4 separate regions of the Homo sapiens genome follow, and all the other regions are reported to be linked to region 2. The links are microRNA targets in miRTarBase. Many come from high-throughput screens and were not tested one by one. Region 2 holds a microRNA gene; each other region holds the end of a gene's coding sequence.
What was found. The annotated mature microRNA hsa-miR-6819-3p reads AAGCCUCUGUCCCCACCCCAG and lies in region 2 at 3,484-3,504, opposite strand. An mRNA with a match to its seed (bases 2 to 7 or 8) in the 3' UTR can be bound and repressed. Matches are read on the target gene's strand: a 7mer-m8 pairs with bases 2 to 8, a 7mer-A1 pairs with bases 2 to 7 and ends in A, and an 8mer does both.

Region 1 (5,148 bases), not on the chromosome of region 2:
ACAATTTTTGTAATTTGCCTTGGACCCTAACAAAGTTATGGCAACTGACTTTTTTATTTATAAAATGGAGAGAAGAGTAGGTATTTCCTTCACCTTGTTATAGCTACTAATTTTGAAATAAAATGTAAAGTGATAATAAATAAGATTATCTTGGGACTGATAAGAGATAATGTATGGACAATTAATTATTTGAATCCCTTAAAATCTAGAAAGTCCTAAAAATGCATTAAATAAATGTTCTAAATTGTTCCGAGCAAAGAAATCACCAAATAAAAAGAACAAATGCTAGAAGAATATTTGTAAACATTCAAATCTCTGTATTCTGCCACTTAATCCACATTTAAGTTTACAGAAATGTTTTATTTCTTTTTGAAAATTACCTTGTAGAAATGTGACTTTTCTATCAAATATATCTGTAATTAGTCAAAGTGCTATAGTGTATGTTGAAATCAACAGTTCTATACTCAATAGTATTTAATTCCTTGTGCTTATAGTTTTTTCAAAATTGGCATAGACTATAAGTTCTGAAAGCAAAATATGGAATGCATGAATTTTAAATGACAGAATTAATTAAAATTCTTTACTGTTATTGACACGTACAATTTTATAGAAGCTTGGTTGAATAATATTTGCATATGATTTACATTTGATTTCCTCATACTCATTTTTGCATATAGTTTGCAGGCATTTCAATGTATAGTAATTTCATATATTTGGAGTAAGACTGATAGATGGAAGGGAGTCATTCAACTAAATTGTTGAAAGGGGAAGGCCCTGAGAGAGCTCAACTGTTCTTGGTCCTTGGTGGCCTCACTGGGCAGTAACAAGGGCAAGTCTATTGAAGGGCAAGTTCACCTTGATCAGATAAGCTGAGTCTCGCACTCTGGAAGAGACTTGAAGTTCTGTTGGTCAGGTACTTTCCCTGAACACAGTCCCTGCCCCCCAAAAAATGTCCCCCTCCCCAAACAAAAAGCATGGAGAAATGGTCAAAACAACCGTGGCTCCATATATACTTCTTTCTCAATTTTGAAATCTATAAATATTTATAGATGTTCTTTATTTGACAAATAAAAATTGTATATATTTATCATGTACAACTCGATAGTTTGAAATATGTATACATTGTGGAATGGATCAGTTGAACTAATTAACATATGTATCACCTCACACACTAGCATTTTTTGTGGTGAGAACACTTAAAATGTACTTTCAAACACTTTTGAACTCTCTAGAATTTTAGCTTGTCCAATCTCTTGAGAGAAATGAGTCCATCAATACAGAAAATCAGCAATGGGAGGCAAGAAGAGATTCTTTGAACTAACACAGGAAAAAAGCACATCTCAATATTTATTTAGATAAAGGGTGTAGATTGTCACTGCTGGGAAATATTTGCTGGGTTACCCATGTTAACGATCTGAATAAATTTAGAGTTGGCCTACAGTGGTGCTCAAATTGGCTCATCTCCAGACATGAATGAACATAGAGCTGCTCTCTTTGCTTTTGGTGTTTCCCTAATTCTCTCATTTTTTTTTTTTTTTAGGAGAAAGAGGAGTAGCTTAACTATGGGTTGAGGAATTTTAGCTAGATGCCAAAATTCCATGCCACATGCTAGAGCCTGGCAAGTTACTGAAGATGTTTATAGCTGCTATTTAGGCCCAAAGAGTCAATTCTGGCCTCAGGGATCACAGGCTTTTCTGGGATGGAATTAGTAAGATAATTATGGTTATTCCTACGCAGAGGGATAGGATAAAACATGCCTCCCAGAAAGACTGGTCTTGTGACACATAGAGGATAAATAAGAAGATAATAAAAATTGGAAGAAGGGTAAAGAAGGGGCAGAAATAACAGAGCTGGCAGCTAACTCTTTGTGAAGGGCGAAATAGAATGAAGAGTCATGACTGACTTCTAGATTTCTGGTCTGAGTGCAGTGATGTCATTCATTGAGTTGGAAAAAAACACAAGGAGAAGTAGGTTTTTGGGCTGTGTTAACTTCATAGTAACTATAGGATAACCTACTGGATATTCTCACTAGGCAGCTAAATGCATGGTATAGAGCTCAGGAAAAATACCTGTGGAAAAAAAACTTAAAAAGTGGTGAAAGAATCCGAGGAAATGAAAGAAAGCATGTGCAGGTAAACTGAGGCAGGGCAAGGACTAAGACTGCTACCATTTTATAAACCTCAAAAGCCTTCACTTCTGAAATGTTTTTTTCCAAAAAGCTTACGGCTCTTTGAGGATCCAATGAGTATACTAAAGTAGAGATTGCAAAGGCAAATGACTTCAAGACCGAGAATCTACAAAAAAAGATAAATAACTGGTTATAACAGGGACTAATTAAACTAGGGAAGGCATGTTCTGCCTAAGTCATTCGAGTTTTTTTTTGTTTTTCGTTTTTAATTCTGTTGGTGCCCAAGCAAAATACATCATCTACAAAGAGGACTTACTCAGCATGGCAGCCAGCTTGTGCCTCCAGAGTAAACGTCTATAAACCAACTTCTTGCAAATCATTCCCTGAACACAGATAGCCTGGATTGAAATCTCCTGGAGAGCACTGACCTTAACATCTACTTATATTTTCTTCCAAATCCAACACAGTGACCACAGAGAAGGCTACCTACCTCCTTTTAGGGACAGCCTGAAGATCTGCAATACTCACCAGATGCCTAAAGAAGAGGTTAAAACATTTCTGCCAATTCTTAGTAGGGTGAGACACACCTGCCCCTTGATGCCCTGCAGACATAACAGCTGTCTGCCAGTACTTCTCATAGAACTAATTCAGGGCATCATTATTTAGAATTCAGCAATGAAAGAGTGTGTTTCCTTTCTCTCTTCCAATGCAACTACACAACAACCCCTTAACATTGTAGAGATTGGAAAATCCTGGTTTTCAGGATTTTCAGGAAAATCTGAGAGCAATCTCTTTTTGGAAGCTCTCCACATTCCTGCGATCTTTTCTTTACATGCTTGGAGCATAAGGCCTTCTGGATCCAGAGCCAAGGACACAGTCAGGCTGTTTAAAGTATTCTTCAGTTTGAAAAGAAATGGGCCCCGTACAAATGTGTGAATTTGGTGAAATTGCCTTTAACAACCTTACCAAATGTATCAATACCAGGTGAGCCTTTGTTCTGATCTCCATTTAAACCCCCTGCACAGCCTAGAGCAGTTGCATATGACATAATCTCTCCTCTCCTTAGTATCACAGCTTTATGCATCATCTTCTCCAAAAAGCAGCTTTTTGATAAAGGACTTGGCCACTTGGCTTTCTCTGATCTCCCAATGTAGTTCTTTTCCAGTTGTAAATGTGACCCAGCTACTAACAGAGAGAATCACTGAAAAATAGAACAGTGGTCATACAAAATTTCCTTTCCCAAATTTGGCATTTTTACATCTTTGTCCTTAACTAAACTCTCAGCAAAGCCCATGAGAATATCAATTTTCATGTGTAAATCCTCATGAAGTGCAAATTTGATACGCTCACACTACTGTAGGTTCTCAATAATGATTGAATTTAAACCATGAAATAAAATCCACTTGTAAAAAGCCAGGAAGTTGCCTTGTGGTTGGAAGGTAAGCTCTGACAGATCAGGGAGCAGGGTGTTGAACTGTCCCTTCAAATGCTACTACAGGATAAAGAAATGCTTTTCTGTAACAGTGTGGAATTAAACTGTAGCTGACCAGACCTTTTCATGATCCCTTCTATAAAAGAAGCTCAAAGCATTGTGGGTGGTCAATCCAGAGAATGCTTAATAATAACCCCTGCTGGTATAAGTCAGTATTACACCATTATCAAGTTGTTAAAATCAGGCTTAAGTTAAAAACTGGTAAATAATTAACAAGTGCCATTATTTGCCTAGCATTGAACTAGGATCATGATAGCTGCAAAATATGTATGAGACATTTTTCAGTCTGTAAGCATTTATATGACTGTTTTCCATTTTAAAGTTGAAAAAGGGATTCAGAGTCCACATTCTCTCTTCTTAGTTGTCCCAGCAGGACAGTCCTCACTTCCCCAGCTTATTATCCAGAAATACTGGGAACATTCTGCCTTTCAGGCCAAATGCCCCCAACTTCCCTGATCACAGTTGCTCCTGAATAGTTTCCGGGTGTACTGAATGAAGGCAGAATGCCTCAGTGGCCCCGCAGGAGGCTTTCTTCTCTTGGGAAAGCCCCAAGCTGCCACTTTGCTTACTCAGCCGACTTTGCCCTGGCAACTGCTGCCTCTCTTGTCTGAAGTCTGGGCATAGCAGCAGCAGCTGATTTTGGCCTGCCAGCTGGTATCTGAGCAACTGCTCTTGGCCCTCCTTCCAGTTCCCAGTCTCTTGCAGGTACACCTGCTGAGCAGGAGCACCTGGAGCACAGATGTGCCCATGGGATGTGATGCCAGTAGTACCAGGAGCAGGCACAGCAGCCTCTTCCTCTCGGACAATGTGGCGGCTAACTTTCCTTCTGGACACTCCATTCATCAACTGGTGGGGGCACTGGTTCACCTTGCCCAGCATGACCTTCATTCTCATATCTGGGGGGAAAAGAAATAGGGGAAGAAATGGATTTAGTTTTCAACCAGTTAATTACACATTTTGCATACTTAGCATTTCTGACAAGATATTGTCAAATCAAAGATTGAATTACATCAGCTCTTTGATTTCCAAATATCTTTTATCAGACACTCCAAATATGTAATAAAAAATTGGTAATACTTCTTCCTCAAAAAATACTTACATGATGTTGATAATTGAATGAGGATTTTTCATTGTAAGCGCTAGGCTTCAATGCAAAAACCAGACCATGGTCAGGCCTTACCAACTGGCCAACTCACACTTACCAACAGGCCAACTTACCAACAGGCCAACTTACCAACAGGCCAACTCACACCTGTGTTAAGAGATATGAACTATAAAAACCAGTCCTATCTAATACTTAGGCTCTTATACCAAGTTCACAATGTAAATATCTTTGGTATTATAAAAACATGAATATAAATATTTGCAGAAATAATCACATAAACATCTATGTATATGAGTGTGTACATGTATGGTTGCATAACAGTAGAAAGAGAGATGGCACATTACACTCAAGTCACAAAATTAGGCCCAAGTTCCCCTTCTCCTGCTATCTGGCTTCATGACTTTCATCCTTTCAGCCTCTCTG
Region 2 (5,148 bases):
CCGTCTCCACTAAAAATACAAAAATTAGCCGGGCATAGTGGTGCATGCCTGTAATCCCAGCTACTCCAGGGGCTGAGGGAGGAGAATCGCTTGAACCCGGGAGGCAGAGGTTGCAGCAAGCCGAGATTACACCATTGCACTCCAGTCTGGGCAACAAGAGCGAAACTCCGTCTCAAAAAAAAAAAACAAAAAAAATAAAAAAAACACGTAAACACATAAGAAAAAAACATGTAAGAAATGAGTATCTCAAAAAACACAAAATGAGAGTCTCAAAAAACCCACAAAAAAACACGTAAGAAATGAGAATCTCAGAGAATAAGATCCTCTGCTTCAAACATTCACTACTTCTTGAGTGTTAACACTCCCTGAGAAACGCAAAGGAGCGTTTTTAACCTCTGTAGGCATTGCTCATGAGGCTCACATTCGTTTTGCAGATATTTAACTGAGGCACCTAACATGTGCCAGGACTGGGCCAGGTGGCCTCAAGCAACTTCCAATTCAAAAGACAATAGACTTTTAGGACAGCTGGGAATAAACTACCTAGAGTTTACTGTGTGTTCAAAACACTAAGCTAAAGCCTCAAAGGCAAGGAGCCAGAAGGGGCAGGGATTGCTTTGTGCAGTCCTTTCTTGGTGACATTCGTGCCTTGCTTGTGGGCTCTGGTTGAGGAACAAGCTACCTTTTGAGAGAAGTGCCGAGGCAAAGGGGCGGGTGGGCAGGGCGGCTCACCTGAGCTTGTTCTTTAGGGAGCTGACTTCGCGGTTCATGGCATCGGCCGTCTCAGTGGCGTCCTCCAGCTCGCGCTGCAGTTTCCGGCGGGAGGCGTTGGCCCGCTGGGCCTCCTCTTCGGCCTCCTCCAGCTGCCGCTTGAGCTGCTTCAGGCGGGTAGATGCCTTGTCGGCCTGCGGAGATGGACGTGTGGCCCGTGGCCCCGGTTAGGGGCTCTGGGCGTGCAGCCAGTCAGCCCCACTGCCCTGCCTGTCACCCCATCTGCTGCCCAGCCCCGCTGCCCTTCTCACTGCCCCACCAGCGCCCACACCTGGTCCTTGTACTGCTCGGCGTTCCTCCGCTCGTCATCCACCTGCAGCAGCACATCCTTCAGCTTCTTCTCGGTCCGACGCACCTGTTTGCAGGCTGCCTGGCGCTCCCTGCATGACAGACAAGGTGGCTCAGAGGGAACACCCTCCTTCAGAGGGTCCGGCCAACAAGCCCTAACCAGGACCACCCATTCCCCGGGGCTCACTGGCATCTAGGGATCACGTAGGGAGGCCTTTGCTAGACACCTATGTGTACCCGGCTTCTTACGACGGGCACTGCAAATAGCCCCATTTACAGATGAGGAAATGGGCTCAGGTAAGGGAAGCGACACACCTCAAAGAGCATCTATGTAACTGGAAAAGAGGTCTGGGGGCCTACTGTAAACCCCATTCCCTCCAAGGAAGTCTCAGTCCTGCTGAGCCCATAGGACAACTGTCCTAGTGGGCAGGACCCCCCTGTACCTCCTGCTCTGATTCACTCTCAGACACAGCCACCAAAACTCCTGGCTTTAGAGGTGGAACAGAGAATCCTGTTCAAACCCCACAAGCTCCCCCAACCACCCAACCTGTGGAAGGGATGAGGGCCCCATCAGGAGGGAGGGAAACAGCCCCAGGCTCAGGAGACAGAGAGCTGGTTGTGGCCCAGATTTGGGCAGGACTGCAGGGGGGCCAGAGTTTTTTCCAGGACAGCTGGGGTTGGGCGGGGCCAGGGGCACGTACTTGGTCTCGTTGTCCAGCTGCTCCTCCAGCTGTGCAATCTTGGCCTCGAGGGCGGTGATGGAGGCCTTGTACTTGGACTTGACAGTGCCCTCCATCTCCTGCAGCTTGACCTTAAGCTCCTTGTTCTGGCGTTCCAGCTGCTGCCGAGCATTCTCGTTCTTCTGGGCGTGGCTGCGCTCCAGGTTCAGGTCGGTGTTGATCTGGTCGATCTGCAGAAGAAGGGCCAGTGACCTTGGGGAGGGCTGGGGCCCTGGCTGGAGGGCATGAGCAGGGCCAGAGGAAGGTGGCAGCAGGATCCCACCAAACCCTTGGGGTCCAGAGTCTTGGGTCTCCCAGAAAAGGGAAGATTAGAAACTTCTGAACACCCAACACAGAAGCCAGAGGGGGACCTTTCAGGTCCAGGTGCCTGGACATTTTCCCCTAAGCGCCTGGGGAGCAGCTGGCACTTGGCCTGTGCTTCTGCCGGCTGGGTCCAAGGCCAGCTCTGCCGTGGTGGCTCCAGCCAGAGCCCAGAGTGGGAGAAGTCCTGGCACCCACCTGCAGGTTGGCCTTCTTCAGCCGGTCGTTGATCAGCTCCGTGTTGCCCTGCTCCTCCTCCAGCTCCTCCTCCAGCTGGGCGATGCGGGCCTCCAGACGCCGCTTCTCCTCTAACGCCAGGGCTCTGCGGGGTGGGCGGGAGAAGTGAGGGGCCTACCCTGGGGACACACCTGGTCCCCCCCAACTCTGCCCCCTCACTCAGCTCACCCTTTGCCGCTGCTGTTGGCGATCTCGTCAGCCAGCTCATCCCGCTCCTGCTGGGCCTGGCGCTTGGCACGCTCCGCGGCTGCCAGTTCCTGCCACAAAGACCCAGAGTGTGACCTAAAGGCAGCCACAGCCCCACAAGACCATCCTTCCCAGCCCCAGGCACCCTCCCCTCAAGCCCTTCCCCAGGCCCACCTCCCCACGAAGCCCTTCCTCCAGAAACCCTCTAGCTCACAGGGCTGGTGCCCCCCTGAAGATATAGCTTAAACACCATATGTTTATAAAACTCTTACATTTAAGTGCTAGGAATCAAGCCAGGTGCCAGGGTATGGCGATAAGTAAGAAGTGTCCTGGCCTAACCAGGGAGACCACGTGGACAGAGTCACTCAGGGCGGCCCCTCCCTGTTCTGGGTAAGCCAGAGCTTGGAGTCAGCTCTGGAGGCCACAGGCAGATGGCTACACCCTGGACGCACTCGCAGCCGGCACATCACGCTGCAGGGCACCCTCCAGACCTGGGAAACACTTCAGGACGGGCTCAGGTGCGACGGGCAGGGCGGCCGAGGGGACGCTCAGACCCCTTCTCACCAGGCAGCATTCACAGCAGGAGGTGGTGGTGGCCACAAAGCCTCATCTCATGTGAGGGATGCCAGTTTCACACACACACACACTCTGATCATACGAGGGAGCCCCGCTATGAAACGGAACCCTGGAGGGAATCCTTATGTAACCTGAGAGCCATCCCCAGCCAATTCCTGGAGCCCAGTAGGACTCCAGCCCTGTCCTCAGCTGAAAGCCCCACGCTGCCACCTGCTGGCCGCAGGGCAGCGGTGCCGCTCTCCATTGCAGCCCCACCCACCTCCTGCAACTGGATCATCTCGGCCTCCATGCTCTTCAGCTTCTTCTCGTTCTCTTTGGCCTGGGCCAGGATCTCCTCACGAGAGGCGCGGGTGTCATCCAGCTCGCGCATGCAGTCCTTCATCTGGGCCTGGGGTGGGGACAGAGGCTTGGCACCCCACCCAGCTCCTTGGCCCTCCACCCCAACCCTCATGGGTCACCTCGCCAACAGGGCTCATGGCTGGTGCTCCACTCAATGCTGTATTTAACCAACTAACCGTGGTGACAGGGCAAAAAGGCAACTAAAGACAATCATCTGTGTATCCCACCCCGTAATGCACACTTTGACAGTGTTCGTCACCGTGGACGTGAGCCCAAGCTGAGCTTCATTTTCTACTTTCTGTCCCCTCCTGTGGGCCGGAAGCCAGTGCCCATGGTGCCACCCCTAATGCGCACCTGCCACTCAAAACCAGTGCCCAGCCTGCCGGTCCATCCCCACCACAGGCAGGAAACACCTTTCCTTTTGTTATTCTCCTGTTACTTCTTTTAACACTAAAGACCTTTGTCAAATAGCCTTTTTTTCCTTTTGCAGATAAATCCGAAATTGAGATTCCCCAAATCAAAGAGAGTGACTGGCTGTGTGCAGCCCGACCACACCAGTAAAAAAATGCCACCAGCAATCAGAGCATCTATGCCCACAACCTTGACCACAATGAAGTTTTAAAGTTTTTGTGGGTTTTTTTTTTACACTTAACATTTTTTTTTTGGCCGGGCGCAGTGGCTCATGCTTGTAATCCCAGCACTTTGGGAGGCCGAGGCGGGTGGATCACAAGGTCAGGAGATTGAGACCATCCTGGCTAACATGGTGAAACCCCGTCTCTACTAAAAATACAAAAATTAGCCGGGCGTGGCGGCGTGCGCCTGTAGTCCCAGCTGCTGGGGAGGCTGAGGCAGGAGAATGGCGTGAACCCGGGAGGCGGAGCTTGCAGCAAGCCGAGATCATGCCACTGCACTCCAGCCTGAGCGACAGAGCGAGACTCCGTCTCAAACAAACAAACAAAAAAAAATTTGTTAAACTAAGGTTATTCTTGTTACATGATATGGCGTATCAGAGCTGTTTTTACGTGTTAATTATTCTTTAATTATTAGTGAGGTGAAGATTTCCAAGTATGTGTCCCACACTCCGGGCTGCTTCTTGGAACCATCGCCCCAGAGCCCAGAAGGCTGAAGGGTGTCAGGACCCGGGTGATTCTGGAAGTCTGCATTAAGTGAGACCTTCTTGAACTCCACCCATGTCTAGGCTTGTACTTGTTTGCTTCTGTGTTTTATGTACCCAGTCATACACCGTTTTGCAAGTTTGCTGTTGGACTATCATGTTTCCACTCACCTCTGAGCCTCTGAGTCTCTGTCAGTGAGATGGGGCTGGAAGCACCCAGGACCTTCCCAGGAGGTGCCACCCTGCCAGGTTCCCGCCCTGGGCCGAGCCCTGGCACCTTCATATGTAGTTGGCTCAGTCGGGTGCCGCCCACCCTCACCTGGGCCCCGCCCACCCTTACCTGCAGCTTCCGCAGCTGTTTGATGGCTTCGTCCCGGTTCTTGTTGGCCGAGTCGATGTGCGCCTCCAGGTCCTTCAGGTCCATCTCCAGCTTCTTCCGGGCGGCCACTGCCATCGAGCGCTGCTTCCTCTCGTCCTCCAGCTCTGCCTCCATCTCCCGCACCTGGGGGAAGGAACATCAACAACTTGGGAAGCTGGACCCACTGGGAGACCCTGCCCTAGCTCTGAACTCAGGAGCCTCAGGCCAGTTCTGCAGGATCC
Region 3 (5,148 bases), not on the chromosome of region 2:
CAGTCTTTCAGTGCTGATGCAGCCTGGTATAACATCCTATTTCCATGTCAGTCATGCTGCAGGGAATATTGTGTGTGTGTACTAATAGGCTGTAATCGTTTGCTAGGACTGCCATAACACAGCATCACAGAATGAAGGGCCTTAAAAACAGCAATTTAGTTTCTTACAGTTCTGGAAATTAGAAATCTAACAGATGTTGGTGGAATGACTTCTCCAAGCCTCTCTCCTTGGCTTGTAGATGGCTGTCTTCTAACTCTGTGTTAACAGAATCTTCTCTTGTGCTTCTGTCTTTACTACCTCTTCTTATAAGAACCCATTATATTTAATTAGGTCCCATGCCAATGAACTCACAAGCTTAATTACCTCTTTAATGACCCTGTGTCCAAATACATTCACAATCTGAAGCAATGCTCTTTTTGCCTTTGTAAAGGAAGTTTGTCTGTGGCAAATGAATAAATGGCAGAATTTTACATCATGGGGTCAGTACAAAAAAGGGAGGTGTGCAGGGGATTTAGGCCACTTTCCTTATGTTGGGAACTCTAATGTCACCATCTGAAGGGCCACTTATGAACAGAAGAGTTATTATAGTTATTATTTCTTTTTTATTTTTTAAGGTGGAGTCTCTGTTGCCCAGGCTGGAGTGCAGTGGTGTGATCTTGGCTCACTGCAACTTCTGCCTCCCAGGTTCAAGCGATTCCCCTGCCTCAACCTCCCGAGTAGCTGGGACTACAGGCGTGTGCCACCACCCCTGGCTAATTTTTTTTTTTTTTTTTTGTATTTTAGTAGAGACAGGGTTTCACCATGTTGACCAGGATGGTCTTGATCTCCTGACCTCATGATCCGCCCGCCTTGGACTCCCAAGGCAATTCTTTTAGCCGATCTTTGTCCTTCACACAGACATAACAGAGGTCCCTGGGTGCTGAAAGACGGGCCTCAGGCCCACTTAGATATTTTGGAAGGCTGTGGTTAGGCTCCATTCACTAAATACACGTATATTAAGCACTTAACTTGCGCAGTCCCTTTTGTAGCTGCTTGGCATAATTCAATGAAGAAAGCAGATAATCACAGGGCCTCAATTCTATCTGAAGAGTTAAACACAGTAAATATTAACAGGATGTCCACTGAATATTAAATGGTGATGTCCTCACGGCAATTTTAATCTCCTGGAGCCACCAACTCACTCCAATTGGAACACTAATTATGGAGTGTGTATTACACATGGTAGTGCTTTTCTGTGTTTGTTCACTTCATTTATGACTAAACAACACCATGTCTGATGTAGAGACGTAAGAGTTGATAAAAAAAGAAACAAACACTACCATGACTGATGACATCTCCCTAGTGTTCACCTAAAGAAATTAACCCAATAAGATCAATAAACTCAATGTTAATTATAAAAATTAAAAGAACAACAAGGCCAGGCGCAATGGCTCACGCCTGTAATCCCAGCACTTTGGGAGGCTGAGGCGGGCGGATCACGAGGTCAGGAAATGGAGACCATCCTGGCTAACACGGTGAAACCCCGTCTCTACTAAAAATACAAAAGAATGAGCCGGGCGTGGTGGTGGGCGCCTGTAGTCCCAGCTACTCGGGAGGCTGAGGCAGGAGAATGGCGTGCACCCGGGAGGCGGAGCTTGCAGTGAGCCGAGATCGCACCACTGCACTCCAGCGTGGGCGACAGAGCAAGACTCCGTCTCAAAAAAAAAAAAAAAAAAAAAAAAAAAAAATTAAAAGAGCAACAAAGGAAAGATTGGCTTAGAGTTCTCCAATTGAAAAAAAATGTACTAAATAAAATGTTACAACATATTTACTATGAAATTACATGTTCAAATTATTTTGCAAGCACCATTAAATTTTGTAAAAATTATTCCAATAATTCCCGAGCAGATTATATAAAGAATACTTTATAAACTTTGGAACAAGAAAACTGGCCGGGCATGGTGGCTCATGCCTGTAATCCTAGCACTTTGGGAGGCTGAGGCGGGTGGATCACAAGGTCAGGAGATCGAGACCATCCAGGCTAACATGGTGAAACCCCGTCTCTACTAAAAATACAAAAAAATTAGCTGGGCGTGGTGGTGGGCACCTGTAGTCCCAGCTACTGGGGAGGCTGAGGCAGGAGAATGGCGTGAACCTGGGAGGTGGAGCTTGCAGTGAGCAGAGATTGCACCACTGCACTCCAGCCTGGGTGACAGAGCAAGACTCCGTCTCAAAAAAAAAAAAAAGAAAATTATGCATTAGGTCTACTATCAATACCAGGCAAGTAAAACCTAGATTTACTTAAGGAGATTCTGAACTAGGAACCACAAGATTTTGAAAAAATGAATTCAATACAAATGGGAAAAATAGATTTGCTTTGAAATTGTTTGAGGTTTCCAGTTTGGTAGTAACTTATCAACACTTTAAAAATTACCAGTTTGTTCTAACATATTTTCTTTCTTCTCAAAATAGGTACACATCCACATTCAAATACAATTACTTGCTTCATAATTCCCTTACACTTTATCTTTAGAGTAACATATTTGTATATTAAACTTTCATGTAAGTGAAAACTTAAAGAGTCTATGTGTGTCTGGAAGGCCACAGAGGTTGCATGTTCAAAGAAAAATGTGAGATAACATCTTCTACATACTCACTTAAGATTCAGAAATATATGGCTTTTGATTATATGCCTGTGTAATTTTCATAATAATCATCTTAATGACTCTATAATTAGAAGAAAAATAATAAAAATGTAACCTATGGAAACAATATTCTCCAACGTATTTGAAGTTTAAAGTCACTAAGGATAAGAATCACTAGAGATGCCATTCCACTATATTACTGAATAGTATGTTGTTACCGTCTGTTACCTAGAGACTTGAGTAAGGTAAAATAGGTTAATGTTGGTGGCAGGATAACACCTAATTCAATGCACAACTGTCTTAACACATTAAAAATAATTGTTTTATTGAAACTAAGTTCACACAGTCTAAGAAAAGCATTACAAAATCCACTATACTATCTAATGTGCAATTGGTAAAACAATTTACTAAAATTTGAATAATGCACAAGACTATTACTCTGAACATCTATCTCATGCAGCACTTACAAGTTTTATAAGTCAACCACAAAAGTTTCTCTGTGTACTTTCTTCACACACCTCATATTTCAGTGTCCTCAATCTTCTGTTGAAAAGTATGTAAATGACATCCTAATATAGAACTTCTCAAACCCCGAGCAGCAGAAATTGACCACATGCTTTCATACAGACACTAGGAATAAAGACACAGCATCAAGTAATTTGAGAGTTCAATTACATCAAAATTTGCCTTTGTAAAAATCTAAAATTCTTTCAATGCAAAAAGTGTACTTTGAATATAATTGTTTAAGTCTCAAAATATTAATCTCCTATTTCTGTTTAGGCTAACTAAATTATGTTAACCTTGAATTACTCTTTATAATCAATGCCCTGATTTAGAATAACATTGAAAGTGTTAGCGTCTTAGTGGTTTCTACTGTGAATCTTCTGATGTTCATTTAGACTTAATTTTTTATTAATTTTTTATATTTACTGCATCTGTTAAATGCTTTCATATAAACTAGCGTTCTTTCTTTTTTTTTGAGACAGAGTCTCTGTCGCCCAGGTTGGAGTTCAGTGGCGCGATCTCGGCTCACTGCAAGCTCCGCCTCTCGGGTTCACGCCATTCTCCTGCCTCAGCCTCTCCCAGTAGCTGGGACTACAGGCACCCGACAACATGCCCAGCTAATTTTTTGTATTTTTAGTAGAGACAGGGTTTCATCGTGGTCTCGATCTCCTGACCTCGTGATCCGCCTGCCTCGGCCTCCCAAAGTGCTGGGATTATAAGTGTGAGCCACCGCGCCCGGCCTTAAACTAGTGTTTTCTAAGGTGTACTTTTTAAACAATTTTTTTCATATTCATTACAGTTGTAGGGTTTCTTTCCAATGTAAATTATCTAAAATGGAATAAAATTTGAGCAACTGTTAGAGGGTTACCTTTCAGTATAAATTCTCCTATGTACAACAAAATCTGTAACATAAGTAAAAGTATTGCAACAATCTTTATATTTGTAATGTTTTTCTTCAGTATAAAAACTCTTGTGTACTCTAAGGCTTATATTTTTGAAGTCTTTCCATGTACAAATGTAATGTATCACTATCATTACACCTTGTGTACTCTAAGGCTTTTATTTGGTGACATCTTTCCACAGATAAATGTAATGTGTATCATTACACTTACATTGCTTTTATCTAGCACAAAACCTCTGATGAGTAAGTTCATAGTAGTTATTAAATGCTTTGCCACATTCTTTAAAATCAGAATTTTTCTCAGCATGAATTTTCTTCTGTGCAATAAGCTGTCAGCAATGGTTGAAGACTTTCCCCACATTCTTCACATTTGTAGTGTTTCTCTCCAGTATGAATTATCTTGTGATTTCAATGCCTTGAGCAAGATTTATGGAATTTGCCACATTCTTTACATTTGTAGGATTTCTCTTTAGTAAAAATTCTTACGTAGTAAGGTTTGAGCAGTGATTAAAAGCTTCCCCACATTTTTTATACTTGCAGGATTTCTCTCCTCTTTGAACTCTCTTATGTTCATTAAGATGTGAGCACCGTTTAAAAGCTTTGCCACATTCTTCACATTTATAGCGTTTGACGGCAGTATGAATTTTCTTATGTCTAGTAAGGTGTGAGCACCGATTAAAGGCTTTTCCACATTCTTCACAGTTGTAGGGTTTCTCTCCAGTATGAATTCTCTTATGTTCAGTAAGGATTGAGGACCAGTTAAAAGCTTTGCCACATTCTTCACATTTGTAGGGTTTCTCTCCAGTGTGAATTCTCTTGTGTTTAGTAAGGTATGAGAACCTCTTAAAGACTTTGTCACATTTTTCACATTTGTAGGGTTTCTCTCCGCTATGAATTACCTTATGTTCAGTAAGAATTGATGATGAGTTAAAAGCTTTGCCACATTCTTCACATTTATAGGGTTTCTCTCCCGTATGGGTTCTCTCATGTATAGTAAGTAGTGAGCAGTGGTTAAAGGCTTTCCCACATTCTTTACATTTGTAGGGTTTCTTTCCAGTGTGAATTGTCTTATGTTTGGTGAGATGTGAGTGCCGGTTAAACGCTCTGCCACAGTCTTCA
Region 4 (5,148 bases), not on the chromosome of region 2:
CCTCACAACCCTGTATCAACAAGATTATGATTTCTGCACTGCAGTGAGTGTGTTGGGGGTGGTGCAGCAGCCAGGGGAGGTAGGAAACTGGGTAAGGACAATGCCCAAGTTGGCAAATTTAGTTTGAATGTCATTGTTTCTCTCTCTACAAGCCCTCTTGTATTGGGGCTGTGTTGGTGGGAGGTGGGGGTGGATAGAGGCTGGGGAATTAGCCAAGTAGGATTTTAGTTTGTAGGACACTGGTCAGATAACAGTAAAGTTTCTAGGGACATTCGGCATAGGTATTAGTCACTAGCAACTTTACATTCACAACTTTGCATTCTTCACGTTTTATCCTCAGATCTGCAAGAGCCAGAGCCCCACATGCCAGATGTGTGGAGAAAAGTTTCTTAAGCATTCAGACGAAGCCCTGAAAATCCTAGGGGGTGTTGGACTCTTCTTTAGCTTTACAGAGGTAACATTCTCCAGTTCCCTCACACACATCCTTTTTGAGACTGAGAATTAATTGATACTTATCTCTCTCCCTTTGTTCCTACAGATCCTTGGTGTTTGGCTAGCAATGAGATTTCGGAATCAGAAGGATCCTAGAGCCAACCCCAGTGCCTTTCTATGAGACTTTGGATCCTTCTGACTTTTCTTCTGCTCTCTCTAAGCTTTCTCTTCCTCCCTTAGGGAATATCTAGGGTCTGTAACCGTTTTGGTTTGAGAAAAAGGAAAGGCCCCTTGTCACATCCTCTAAAATTGATGGAATAGCAAGACTTTATGCCTTGACATATTTTAGTGGGAGCCAGACTATAAGGAATAAAAGGAAAAACTTTCTTCCTCTCTCTCCAAGAGGATATGGGAAGCTTCTGTGAGTGCATAGGATGGGGGCTGGAGTCATTCTTAGCTGTTTCCCTTCCTCTGTCCATATACTGGATCACCTCAACATACCCTGGTGTGGCTCTAAGGGTAAATCAGGGATAGGGCCAAGGAGAAAACAACCAAGAACTCTTTCCTGTAATAAGCAGGATCCAGTTTGAGAAAGTTTAGCGAATATAAAAGTAAAAGCCATTTAAAAATCTATATTCTTTTTTTTTTTTTGACACAGAGTCTTGCTCTGTTGCCCAGGCTGGAGTGCAATGGCATGATCTCGGCTCACCGCAACCTCTGCCTCCCGGGTTCAAGCGATCCTCCTGCCTCAGTCTCCCAAGTAGCTGGGATTACAGGTGTGCACCACCACGCCTGACTAATTTTGTATTTTTAGTAGAGACAGGGTTTCACCATGTTAGTCAGGCTGGTCTCGAACTCCTGACCTCAGGTGATCCACCCGCGTTGGCCTCCCAACGTGCTGGGATTATAGGCGTGAGCCACCACGCCCCGCCTAAAATCCATATTCAAAGAAGCAATTTCAGTTCCTTTCTAAGCTTTGTCAGTCAAGGGGCTCCACTGACTTCCTAGGCCCTGTAATTTAACCAGTCTTTAAGGTTTTGCAGGAAAGTCCCTTCTTCCAAGTGGTTTTTCCAAATCGCACAATGGCAAAGCCAAACAGAGGAAGAAACATTAAAAAAAAAAAAAAGACCATTATTTCTTTGTTTTGTTTTTCCTGTATAAAAAAGGACCCCAAATATAAAGGTAGGGAAAGGGACAAGAGGGAACATACCCCTTAGTGTAGAGAAATGGGAAGGAGAAGGAGAAGCCTCAAAAGGAGAGGTGGGAGGGGAATGTCATTAAGGCAGCAAAGTAATCTCTGTAGAAAGATGGAGGAGGACCCTCCATAGCCTCAGAGATAAAGGCAAAGATTGCCCTCTCAGTGTCCAGAAGGGAAATGGCAGCTTTTCTTCCTTCCATGGCAGCCACTCCATTGCTCACTCCGGATTACCTTCATCCTTATGTAGATAAGAGTGCTGCAGAGCTCGAAAGGCAGAGATTCGCTTGTGTGGGTTAAAAGTCAGCATTTCCTGAGGGGAGAGGCAAAGGTCAGAAAACCATGAAGAAAACAGACTTCTGCCCACCCACAACAATACCTGGGATGAGCTTTCTTCTTTTTTCTTTTTTTTTTTTTTTGAGACGGAGTCTCGCTCTATCACCCAGGCTGGAGTGCAATGGTATGATCTCAGCTCACTGCAACCTCCGCCTCCTGAGTTGAAGTGATTCTCCTATCTCAGCCTCCCAAGTAGCTGAGATTACAGGCGTGTGCCACCACCCCCGGCTTATTTTTGTACTTTTAGTAGAGACGAGGTTTCACCATGTTGGCCAGGCTGGTCTCGAACTCCTGACCTCAGGTGATACGCCCACCTTGGCCTCCCAAAGTGCTGGGATTACAGGCGTGAGCCACCGTGCCCAGCCAGGATGGGTTCTCTTCTATATCCTTCTCTGTGGGTGGCTATTTGCAGCTGTAATAAAAACTACAGCCCATCTACCAACCAAGTTTCATTAACCACAGTGGCCAGGGCCCTGCATACTGCTCTATTTCTTTCCCCAGTCTCTATTTCTTTCCCTGTGCCCACAGCCATCTCCAGTACCAGCAGCAGCTGTGCTCCCGACTCCTCCATCTCAGGTACCACCGACTGCACTGGGCGGGGCCCTCTGGGGGGAAAGGCTCCACGGGGCAGGGATACATCTCGAGGCCAGTCATCCTCTGGAGGCAGCCCAATCAGGCTGTGGGGGACAGGAGAACTCTGGTCAGGAGGGTCCTCCAGTTCCCATCCCCATGGGCAGAGCCAGTTGCCATCCTGGGTTCAGCAGAAAGAGGACTCAGAATAGAAAATCTTTTTCTCCCATGTTGGTCACTTACTCAAAGATTTTGCCCAACTGGTCGGCTTCAGAGTTTCCACAGAAGAGAGGCCTAAGGTGAGAAGGGATATAAGGTAGCAGTCATTTTCAAAGATATCTTAGTTGAATGGTTACTGCTTAGTGGCTCAAAATAGGAAGTATAGGGAATAAAGGCCAACAATTCCAGCACTTTGGGATGCTGAGGTGAGAGGACTGCTTGAGCCCAGGAGTTCTAGATCAGCCTGGGCAAGCAAGACCTTGTCTCTTTTTTTAAAAAAAAAGAAATGCCAGGTGCAGCGGCTCACGCCTGTAATCCTAGCACTTTGGGAGTCTGATGTGGGTGGATCATGAGGTCAAGAGATCGAGACCATCCTGGCCAACATGGTGAAACCCTGTCATTACTAAAAGTACAAAAATTAGCTGAGCATGGTGGCGTGCACCTGTGGTCCCAGCTACTTGGGAGGCTGAGTCAAGAGAATTGCTTGAATCTGGGAGGTGGAGGTTGCAGTGAGCAGAGATCGCACTACTGCACTCCAGCCTGGCGACAGAGCAAGACTCCATCTAAAAAAAAAAAAAGCCAGTCATGGTGGCGTGCACCTGTAGTCTCAGCTACTCAAGAGGCTGAGATGGGAGGATTGCTTTAGCCCAGGAGGTAGAGGCTACAGTGAGCTGTAATTGGGCCACTGCACTCCAGCCTGGGTGACAGAGTGAAACCTTATCTCAATAAATAAATAAATAAATAAATAAATAAATAAATAAATAAATAAAAAATAAAGAGAATAAAGGGATATGAAGTTCCTAATTCCAGAACATTTCAGAGCTTTCTGCTATGGGCAAGTTAGTAGTACGCAAGTAAAAGAATGGGGCCAGATGCAGTAGCTTATGCTACTTTGGGAGGTAGGGGTGGGAGGATTGCTTGAGTGCAAGAGTTCAAGACCAGCCTGGGCAATATACTGAGACCCCATCTCTATAAAAATATTAACAAACTAGCCAAGCATGGAGGTGCGTGCCTGTAGTGTCAGCTAGTTGGGAAGCTGAGATGGGAGGATCACTTGAGCCCAGGAGGTTGAAGCTGCAGTGAGCTGTGATCATGCCATTGCAATCCAGCCTGGGCAACACAGCAAGCCCTGGTCTCAAAAAAAAAGAATGGGCAAGGTATGGATGTGGTTTATGAACAAGCGATTTGGGGAATTCAAGGTAGTCCAGGGTATGTGGGTCCCATACTTTCGACGAAACATCTCTGCAAAGATACAGCCAACACTCCACATGTCCACAGGTGTTGCATATGTGGACTGCAGAAGAACTTCGGGAGCTCGGTACCAGAGTGTAACAACCTAAAGGGAATAGGAAGAATGGATGGGGACCCCATGGGTTACCATGAAACACAACTTGCTTGACTGAACACATGAAGCACATGACTTCTCAATTGCTACGGGCAATCACTCTCCTACTCCCAACCAGAACCCATTTTGGTACCATCTTTCTACTGACCACGGGTGTAAGTGCCATCTGGTAGCTGTAGATTCTGGCCAGGCCAAAGTCAGCCAGCTTGACTGTTCCACCACTTGTCACCAGAATGTTCTCTGGCTTCAGATCTCGGTGAACGATGCAATTGGCATGAAGGAAATCTAGGCCTCTTAGAAACTGGCGCATCAGATCCTAGTTTCAAAGGGGAGGTACAGATGCACTGGAAACTAGGCACCATACCTGAAATCCCAGAAGGTTCTACTACAAAGGTCCCAATCCACCTCTCAATGCCTACCAACCCCACTCACCTTGATCGTTTCGGCTGGCAAGCCTGGTGGGGGTGCCTTGTCCAGATATGTCCTTAGGTCCTGGTCTACATGCTCAAACACCAGGGTTACCTTGATCTCCCGGTCAGTTCGGGATGTGGCACAGACGTCCATCAGCCTGACCAGAGTAAATGCTCACTTTTCAATCCCCTTTAACCCAACATGGCCTCTCATTATTTCCTCAGGGTCCCCACTTCTCTACAGATCATCACACCCCACCTATAGGCTGTCTTTTCCCTTTACTCCCCACGCCCAACCCTCCACCACCTTCTCACCGGACAACATTGGGATGCTCAAAAGCCTCCAGTCGCCTCAGTAAAGCCACCTCACGAACTGTGCTGATGGGAAGGCCTCCTCCACCTCCTCCTCCATTGGGGACTCTCACACTCTTGAGGGCCACAAAGTGGCCACTGTGGGGATCACGGGCCTTGTACACTGTCCCATAGGCACCGACACCAATTTCAGCCACTGGCTCATATCGAGAGGTAGCCATTCTCAGATCAAGGGAGACCCTACAATCACAGACTCCTATCACCAAAAGTCGCTTACAGAGTTAGGATGGTATGAGCCTGCAGCAACAAAGGGACTCCCAAAAAAAAAG

Region 1: miRTarBase lists PKHD1 as a target of hsa-miR-6819-3p. The part of its 3' UTR that is shown has no 7-base or 8-base seed match.
Region 3: miRTarBase lists ZNF682 as a target of hsa-miR-6819-3p. Seed matches in the 3' UTR shown: 7mer-m8 at 3,699-3,705.
Region 4: the mRNA of TSPAN31 is a reported target of hsa-miR-6819-3p. Seed matches in the 3' UTR shown: 7mer-m8 at 3,371-3,377 and 8mer at 3,409-3,416.

Annotation. Positions count from the first base shown.
Region 1 is chr6:51,615,005-51,620,152 of GRCh38, forward strand. PKHD1 (PKHD1 ciliary IPT domain containing fibrocystin/polyductin) reads right to left here. Exons shown (of 67, transcript NM_138694.4): 67 at 295-4,516. The coding sequence ends at 4,077. Among named protein-coding and RNA genes, the nearest start is that of PKHD1, 470 kb to the right of the region's middle.
Region 2 is chr22:36,283,364-36,288,511 of GRCh38, forward strand. It overlaps MIR6819 (microRNA 6819), which reads right to left and starts at 3,544; the gene lies at 3,484-3,544. It overlaps MYH9 (myosin heavy chain 9), which reads right to left. Exons shown (of 41, transcript NM_002473.6): 34 at 4,889-5,050; 35 at 3,355-3,483; 36 at 2,502-2,590; 37 at 2,295-2,418; 38 at 1,758-1,966; 39 at 1,040-1,148; 40 at 730-902. RefSeq lists an enhancer at 3,033-3,545.
Region 3 is chr19:20,001,494-20,006,641 of GRCh38, forward strand. ZNF682 (zinc finger protein 682) reads right to left here. Exons shown (of 4, transcript NM_033196.3): 4 at 2,925-5,148. The coding sequence ends at 4,512. It also overlaps the pseudogene BNIP3P12. Among named protein-coding and RNA genes, the nearest start is that of ZNF682, 35 kb to the right of the region's middle.
Region 4 is chr12:57,746,678-57,751,825 of GRCh38, forward strand. It overlaps TSPAN31 (tetraspanin 31), which reads left to right. Exons shown (of 6, transcript NM_005981.5): 4 at 1-43; 5 at 341-454; 6 at 539-3,542. The coding sequence ends at 613. CDK4 (cyclin dependent kinase 4) reads right to left here. Exons shown (of 8, transcript NM_000075.4): 2 at 4,823-5,059; 3 at 4,530-4,665; 4 at 4,246-4,413; 5 at 3,979-4,088; 6 at 2,777-2,827; 7 at 2,505-2,640; 8 at 1,050-1,940. The coding sequence starts at 5,040. The coding sequence ends at 1,848. It overlaps MIR6759 (microRNA 6759), which reads right to left and starts at 2,005; the gene lies at 1,941-2,005. RefSeq lists a silencer at 4,783-4,922.